2 separate regions of the Homo sapiens genome follow, and region 1 is linked to region 2. The links come from fine-mapping of genetic effects on gene expression. A gene starts in region 2. The other region holds a variant in brackets. All regions are shown on one strand. Distances are between the middles of the regions.

Region 1 (4,175 bases), 71 kb after region 2:
CTTCCCAAAGTACTGGGCTTACAGGCATGAGCCACAGCAACCCCCGGCCCTCTACATTAAATTTAAATGGAATAAATGCTCCTGCTTTTAAAAAAAGAAATACCATCAGGCGCGGTGGCTCATGCCTGTTATCCCAGCACTTTGGCAGGCCAAGATGGGCAGATCACCTGAGGTCAGGAGTTCAAGACCAGCTTGGTGAACATGGTGAAACCCCATCTCTAGTAAAAATACAAAAATTAGGCCGGGCGTGGTGGCGGGCGCCTGTAGTTCCAGCTACTTGGGAGGCTGAGGTAGGAGAATGGCGTGAACCTGGGAGGCGGAGCTTGCAGTGAGCCAAGATCGCACCACCACATTCCAGCCTGCAGCCTGGGTGACAGAGCGAGACTCTGTCTAAAAAAAAAAAAATACAAAAATACAAAAATTAGCCAGGTGTGGTGGTGCACGCCTATAATCCCAGCTACTCGGGAGGCTGAGGCAGGAGAATTGCTTGAACCCGGGAGGCGGAGGTTGCGGTGAGCCGAGATCACATTATTGCACTCCAACCTGGGCAACAGAAGTGAGACTCCGTCTCAAAAAAAAAAAAAAAAAAAAAGCCAAAAGGTGAAGTGAAAGGGTGAAAGGGTAGAAGAAGACCTGTCAGGAACCCTCAGGCAGGACTGACAGGTGTGCAGCCCTGTGCACCACTCCCAAGAGCACCTGGAAGTCCTTAGTGGATAACTGTGTGCATCTATGACATGGCAACTCCACAACCAGATGTGTTTCCAAGAGAATTCTTACACAGCTCCATAAAAGGAGGTATACCAGATGCCCACTGAAGCTATCTATCATGACAACCATTGTGGATTCACACCATTCAGAGGGACACAGCAGTAGTGGGCAAGGGCCAGATGTGCCACAGCAATGTGGCTAGGTCTTACACTACACCGACTTTGCAAGAACTCAAATAATGAAAAGGATGTACCTTATACATAGCAGACCATAGCAGACGGTTGCCTGTGGGGTGGGAAAGGAATGAAATGGTCCTGACATATTAAAGTAAATATATAGGCCAGGCATGGTGGTGCACACCTATAGTTCCAGCTACTCAGGAGGCTGAGGGAGGAGGATGGCTTGAGCCCAGGAGTATGAGACCAGCCTGGGCAACATGGTGAGACTCCATCTCACAAAAATAAATATGTAAGATAGCGGGGGTTGGTCTTGCCCAGACCCAGGATGATCACCTGCCATGAGCAGAGGAGTATGACCATCTCAACCCTCTACACCGAGGCCAAACACAAAGGAAATACAGAATACGGCAAAGAGCCACACACAGGGGCCTGGAACCTTGGTCCCAGCCATGAAACAGTCTACACCCAACATGCAGGTAAATTCATAGGCTGCGCTGGGAGGACACAGATAGAGCTCACACTGGGGCACATGCTTACGCACTGCACCCTACAGGCTCCACAAGCGGGTTCTGAACAAAGGATACCCCTCAGGGGCATGCGCATACTGTGGGGTATAGTCAAGCCCAAGTACCCACCCTGAGGACATCTTGGCACAGGTACACACCCGGGGTGAGTCACAGGACCAGCTGAGGCCAAGGACCTCTAAGAAACCTGCTCAGCCCAAGGCTCAGCAAGCTGGAGCCCTCAGGGTAGGGAGGAGATGGACAGGGGACTAACTGAGCAGGTCTAGGGGGTCCAGCCCAGAACAGGGGATCCCTAAACCCTCTGCTCCAATGCTCTGGCCACCATCTTGAGAGGGCTGAGAGGCCAGAGGGGCAGAGCTATCTCTCTTCCACATACTCTCCTGTGGGGCACAGGCTCAAGCCACCCA[C/T]CCTGTGACCCACTGGTGCACCCACCTGGCCTCAGGCACAGCACACCTTTCCTCGCTCCACACAAATTTCTTCAGCACGTCAGAGCAGCAGTATTGGTCATCACAGGTACCACAGCAGAAATCTGGACAGGACTCGGGGAAGAGGCTGAGTCCACGGGAAGCCATACACACCTCACCACGTGCTGGAGAGGAGAAACACATCTGTTCACCTGTGCCCACGGGCCAGGCCCCAGCAGACACAGCGCCCTCCCTGGCACAGCCACCAGACCACACACACACACACATGCTGCACCGTCTCTGAGCCACCCTAGCCACAGGCCACCTTCTGACCCCTGGCCACTGCTCCCCCTCAGCCTTGCCCTATCCCACGGGCCACAACAGAGCTGCCCTAACTGGGCTCCCTCTCTCCCTCACCAGTGCACTGGCCTCCTGATAGGAGGGTGAACTTTCTCAATGTGAGTCTGATGGGGCCACACCCTGCTCTCAAACCTCCCCTAATTCCCACTGCTTCAGGATCAAGGCCCGAGTTTCCAAGCAGGGTCTAAACTGCAGAGTCCTGAAGATCACTCCAGCTCTCCAACCTGTCCACACTCCGCTCACATTCTTGCCTGGTTCCTATCTCCTGCCTTTCAACTCTACTCATCCTTCAAGGCCCTACTCCAGGTGGCCTCCTCCAGAAGCTGCCCAGGCGAGAAGTCACACAGCTCAACACCTGCAGGGGACCAGACACTGGACTGTCCCTTTCTTTCTTTTTTTTTTTTTTTTTTGAGACAGAGTCTCACTCTGTTGCCCAGGCTGGAGTGCAGTGGTGCGATCTCAGCTCACTGCAATCTCTGCCTCCCAGATCCAAGCAATTTTCCTGCCTCAGCTTCCCGAGTAGCTGGGATTACAGGTGCCTGCCACCAGGCCCAGCTAATTTTTTGTATTTTTTAGTACAGACAGAGTTTCGCCATGTTGGCCAGGCTGGTCTTGAACTCCTGACCTCAGGTGATCCACCCATCTTGGCCTCCAAAGTGCTGAAATTACAGGCATGAGCCACCGCACCCCAGCCAGACTGTCTAGTTCTTAATCCTCGTTCACTCTCTCCCTCACTCAACCACAGCAACCTCAGCCCCTGCTGGGCACCACAACTGCAGGGGCCTGGCTCTCACAGACCACCCCATAACCATGATGGCAGGCTAGATCCTGGTCAGAAATTGTCACACCCACCATACCAGCGTTCATAAAGCACTTAGCCCCGCGCTGGGCCTGCAGCAGGTGTCCAGGAAATGTCTGTGCCTTCCAGGAGTTTGAGACCAGCCTGGGCAACAGGGCTCCAAGGCAGTGGCACCATCTGTAGCCCTGGAGCCATCACAAGACTCTCAGCACAGAGTTGGGATCTACTGACATCCTTACAAGTCTCAATAAACGAGGTCATGCTGAGGGGATCTGGCTGACAACAAATGTGGAAAATAACCCAGGTTTTTGGATGACCACAAGGTTTACAAACCTCCAGGAAGATGCTACAGTCAAATGTTCCCATGTATCCTCAGGCTACATTAGCAGAGACCTGTGCCCACTAACAGGAAGGAACAGTACCGGATTCTGCCAGGGCAGACTCCAAAGAGAATACCTAGTCCAGCAAGGCCCACAAGTCCGCAGTAGGCAGGGGACAGGTCTGATGATAGCCCTGAGGCATAACTACATCGGCCTGGAAACAGTCTGCCATAGCACGTGGCCTCTGGAGACCCAGCCAGGCCAGGCACCTGGCCATGTGCAGCATCTGGTGCCCGGGCCTGATCAGGACACCACACACCCCGAGGCTGTCAGTAGAGTGAAGCCCAGAGACAGAGACACCAAGTGACCTCCTTGGGAAGAGGGAACTTTAGTGGGGAGTTGGGGGGAACTGCACTTCTTGGCAGCTCCAGGCAGAACCCTGCTCTGGGCAAAGCCATGGAGCAGAGGATTGGACCATTGACAAGCCCAGTTTGGCCAGCTGCCCACCTGAAAGCTGGTATCATCAGCATGGCCCGTGCCTGGTGGCTCAGGTGAACCCATATGCAGCAAGGTCTTCACAGCCCAATCTGAGCCTCTGAGCTAGGGCTGAAGACACACCGGTGAGGCTGTTTAGGCTGAGTCCATGGCACAAATGCTCTCTGACCCCCAGACCTCACTGAATCAGTGACCGACCCTCCTACAGGCTCACTCCAGGAGTGGGCGGATTCTGGGCACAAGTCTCCCCTTTCTCATTTCTCTAGCCCAGGTCCTCTGGATTCATCCCAGCCCCCAGGAAATACAGCCTTCCCCTCCACGAAGCCACCCACCCCAAAAGGGTCTTTGGCTTCCCATGGGTGGGCAGGGGATTGTTCCAATTCCTA
Region 2 (4,175 bases):
TATCTGAGGCCCTGCTCAGACTCACAGCCAAAGCCTAACTCTGCCTGTGCCCAGTGCTCCCCCACACATGCCCTGGAGTCTCTTCTGGGGCCACCCTACTCTGAACCTTTTCAGGGGGCGCAAGACTGCCCAACTTCTGTCTGTAGAGCAAGCACCTCCCGGACCCCCGTGGAGCTGTCCTCGACAACAAAAGGGGCTCACAAACCCCGCCATTCCGCACCTGCAGAGGGGCCATAGGACAGCCCACATTTGCCTTGCCTGCCAGTTAGTGGGAAACCGGCCTTCCCGTTTCACCCTCCTGCTCAGCTCCCAGGGTTCACTACAGAGGTGAGTTATTCATTGACAGTGCAGTGGTGCCCGCTGCCCGCCCTGTTTTCTGTGTGTTGAGGAGGGGTGGGGAGATCCACCATTTACCAGGCACCTGCGATGACCCAAGGCGCTCATCGATCACCCACTTAATATGTCTGTGTGTGGAGAGGAGGGTCCCCCCCACCCGCCCGGGGGTCAGGAGGCTCGAGGTCCGCCTTTGTCAGTCCCACCGGGAGCAGCCAGAAAGGGCTGTTACTACTGAGGGGAAGCCCCGACCTCCCCACTCGGCTCGTCCTTGACCCTCCCCAACCCCCAGACCCCGAGGCGAGGACCCCATCACTGGCCCTGGGAGGGCGGGGAAGGGGCCGGCCGGTCCCCGGCGGCGACGGCGAGGAGGGGGCGCGGAGGAGCAGCTCCACCTCCTCAGTCTCCCAATCGCGTTCCAGGCGGAGTCGCCAGAGTTTCCCTTCGCGCGGAGAAGTGTGGTCCCAACTCTCAAAACCAAAGCCGCCCACCACTCACCCAGGCCGCCCCTGCCCGGCGGGATCGGGGCCCCGGCCCGTTCCACCTCGGGAGCCCCGTTCCTCGCCGCCCTGGCCCCGAGCCCCGCACTCACCACCCGGCCGGGCCCCGCGGGATGTGCGCGCCGAGGCGGGCGTCGGCCGCTCCGGGCTCGGGCTCCGCGCGCAGCGGCCTCTCCCCGGGTCTGGCGGAGCCGCAGCTGTTACCCGGAGACCGAGGGGCGGAAAACTGCGCCCGCTGCCCGCCCCTCCCGCGCGGCGCTGCCACCGCCGGGAACAAAGGAGACAAAGCCGCGTCGGCCGGGCTCGTCTCCGCTCCTTCCCCCTCGCCTGCCGGGCTGCCCTCCCCCCGCCCGCCGCCCGGGCCAGGCCGGAAGCAGCCCGGAGAGCCGGGCGCGCGGCCCCGAACCGCCCGGGACCCCGCATTCCAGCCCCGCGGGCTCCGCATCGGCCGAGGGCTGGGGACCCGACCCCTCCCGCACGGGGGAGGGCGGGGGCGGGCTGCACCGCGGCGGTCGCCATGGCAACGCGGGTCGCCCGGAGGGGTGAGGAGTGAACCCCGGGAGCCAGAGCCGCCCCGCCCCGTCGGCCTCACCTGCTCGCCTCCTTGGAACCGGAACTGGGAACTTTCCTGGTTGCCAGGAGCCGAGGCGGGGGGTCGCGCTCCGCACCCGCAGGTGCTGGTGGAACAGCGTCCCGGCCTCTTCCCGCCCGTCCAGAGCCGGGTAGCACCCGAGTCCCTCACCAGCCCGACCCGTTCTTCTGCCAGCGCCCGGCCTCGCCCCGCGCCCGGAGCTCCCTTTCCCTTCCTTACCCGGCTCCGGTGGTCATCCTCCCCAACTTTCTTTACCTGAACTCCAAGGCGCCTTGTTTCTCCCCTGCGCACCTGGCCCTGCCCACCGCCCCTGCTCACCGCCCCTGCTCCCACTACTCCCCAACAGCCAATCCCTCCTTCCGGCCCCCACCTCTGGCTGTTTGAGAAGAGCATGGGCTTTGGACCTGGGCTTGCGCCATCAACTAAACCATGTAACCTGACACCAACCCCCCCCAGCCTATTTGCTCACCAGTAAGTGGGGGTGATCCCACCTCTAGCGGGGCTGTGAAGGCAGGGAACCTGGGCTGCAGAGGCGCACAAGCAAGGGCTCACTTCCTTCCTTTCTTCCCAGCCCAGGACCCAGACCTGGACCCACCCCAAGCTGAGAAGCGTTGGGCAAGTCTGGGCTCCCTCACTGGCAAACACCTGGGCCTTCTGCGGGAGGAAACGCTGGCAGAAAGGTTCTCTCCTGGGGACCATTTGTACCCTGTGCAGGGCCCTTCACACCCTGGCATGCCCACGGCTAACTCAGGACCAGAACCTGGCCCATCCTATTAGGACTTTTGGAGGACTTTGGCTCAAAGCCATTGGCACAGCTTCCTGGGAGGCAAAAACGTCACAGGCATCATCTGAAAGCCTCCAAGGCCTCCACAGGCTAGGGGAGCCTCAATCAGGAGGTTCAGGTCATCCACACTGGCTACTGCCCTAGAGCTAGAGACACCCTCTTCCCACCTCCCACCAGCTATCAAGGGTCTCCTGTCAGGTCACCCCTTTTCCTCCACTCCCACTTCCAGCACCTGAGTCCAGGTGCTTAGCACCTTGTCTGCACCAGCATAGCAATCCCTCCCTGGATCCCTCACCCTTAGCCTCTGACCTCAGACTGCCAACCTGGCACCCCGGGCCTGTGACATCATTCTGCACAACTCCCCCACACCCATCACCACCCCAGCCAGGACAGTCTGCCCCAGTCCCTCACCCACTTTGGCTTTCCTGCCTATGTAGCTTGTAGCAGCCCCCTCCACATGCACAGAATCCCTCCCTCCCCAAATCCATTCATCCAAGCACACACTTCAGGACCTATCTCACCCCAGAGGAAACTGGGACTTCCAAACCCCACAACCCCTTTCATCTGTACACAGATACGCTACCTCCTGCCCTACAAGGAATGTGAACACTCTAAGCACAGGGGTCTTTCCATCCCATGCCATTCTGGGGAGCCATTACTCGCCAAGGATAGATTGACTGAGGGACCAGGTGCTGAGAACCTGGGGTGGGGGGCATTTGGGCCATGCTCACTGCCCAAGACTGAACACAGGCTCCAAGAAGAAAGTATGCCTTATGGGAAACACTCCTGACTCCACAGGCTCTGAGAGCTCTGCACAGGCACCAGTGAACGAGTCCCCACCTGCGGCCCCCCTGCATATAGCTACCCTGCGCTCTCAAAGGGGAGTGGGTTCTCTGGAATGTGCCTGACTTCCAATACTCCAACACCAGGACTGAATACCAGCCCAAAGCTCCTGTTTACTCAGGGCACACAAGGCCACCCATGGCCATTTAGTCAAGGTCAAGGGTCACTGTTCCCCTCTGAAAAGAGATCATACATATGCCCCACTGCACCTCCCACCTGTGGGAGACCCCCCCCTCCCTATCACTGCCTCTCCATGCACACTCCCGGTGTCCTGAGCTCTGCCTATGCCTGTGGAAGATATCCCCGGGCTGTGTGGGGGTGTGCACCCAGCCCCCGTGGCACACCACTGCTGCCCAAAGCAATCTCTGTACCAGGGATCCAGACTGGCCACCAATCCCTATACTTATGTCCCCAGCAACATTTATCAACCATTCTCCCAATCTCCCTTCCCTGCTCTCCTCTGATCACTCCTCCAGTACTAGAACCAGGAAGTTCTCCCCCACATGGTAGAGAAAGTGATCCAGGAGATGGGAAGCAACCATGGTCACGAAATGAGTAGGCAGCAGGCTAGGTTCCACTCACTGGAACTCCCAGGCCATCTGACACCGGACAGTCAGGTAACTGGAGGAAATCCAAAATGAAAATCTAGGCCTCAGGAGTGCATCCATAACAGTTCAGAAAAGAGGACAGAGAGGAGATGAGAGAGGAACTAAAGGGGGTGACTACCCCAACTCCAGGCCCAACCTTCAAGTCTTGGATCTTGATTCTTAATGAAAAAAACTCAGTCTGATTGTTTTAAATAATAAAACTCAGGATATTTTAATTGGACATTAGCACAAAGTTTTGATAATTAATGTAAATGAACCTTGTCTACAAAGCGAAGCATGCCTGCTGGTGAGCCACACAGATACTGCTCCTTCAGATTGAGGTTGTACATGCCCCCAAAGGCTCGCTTCATTGCTACGATTCTCTACTTAAATCCACATTCACAGCTATTGCCTCAGACCCTCTGGAGGAGGGGCCAGGGGTTAGCTGGCTTTGAATAGCATGTAGAGCACAGGCAGTGTGGCCACAAATGTCACACAGGTGACCAGGGTGCTATAGATGGTGTTCCTGTTGACTT

The links. PIP is the estimated chance that this variant, and not a neighbour inherited with it, causes the effect. A credible set is the group of variants that fine-mapping cannot tell apart.
Region 1: its variant is the best candidate, but not a certain one, in a credible set for the expression of PLXNB1 in whole blood (TOPMed, PIP 0.71).

Annotation. Positions count from the first base shown.
Region 1 is chr3:48,499,294-48,503,468 of GRCh38, forward strand. SHISA5 (shisa family member 5) reads right to left here. Exons shown (of 6, transcript NM_016479.6): 2 at 1,844-2,000. Among named protein-coding and RNA genes, the nearest start is that of SHISA5, 2.8 kb to the right of the region's middle. The variant C/T (reference allele first, on the strand shown) is at 1,819.
Region 2 is chr3:48,428,328-48,432,502 of GRCh38, forward strand. It overlaps PLXNB1 (plexin B1), which reads right to left and starts at 1,759. Exons shown (of 38, transcript NM_001130082.3): 1 at 1,681-1,759. CCDC51 (coiled-coil domain containing 51) reads right to left here. Exons shown (of 4, transcript NM_001256964.2): 4 at 3,846-4,175. The coding sequence ends at 4,081. RefSeq lists silencers at 713-792, 873-1,472 and enhancers at 1,713-2,706, 4,060-4,175.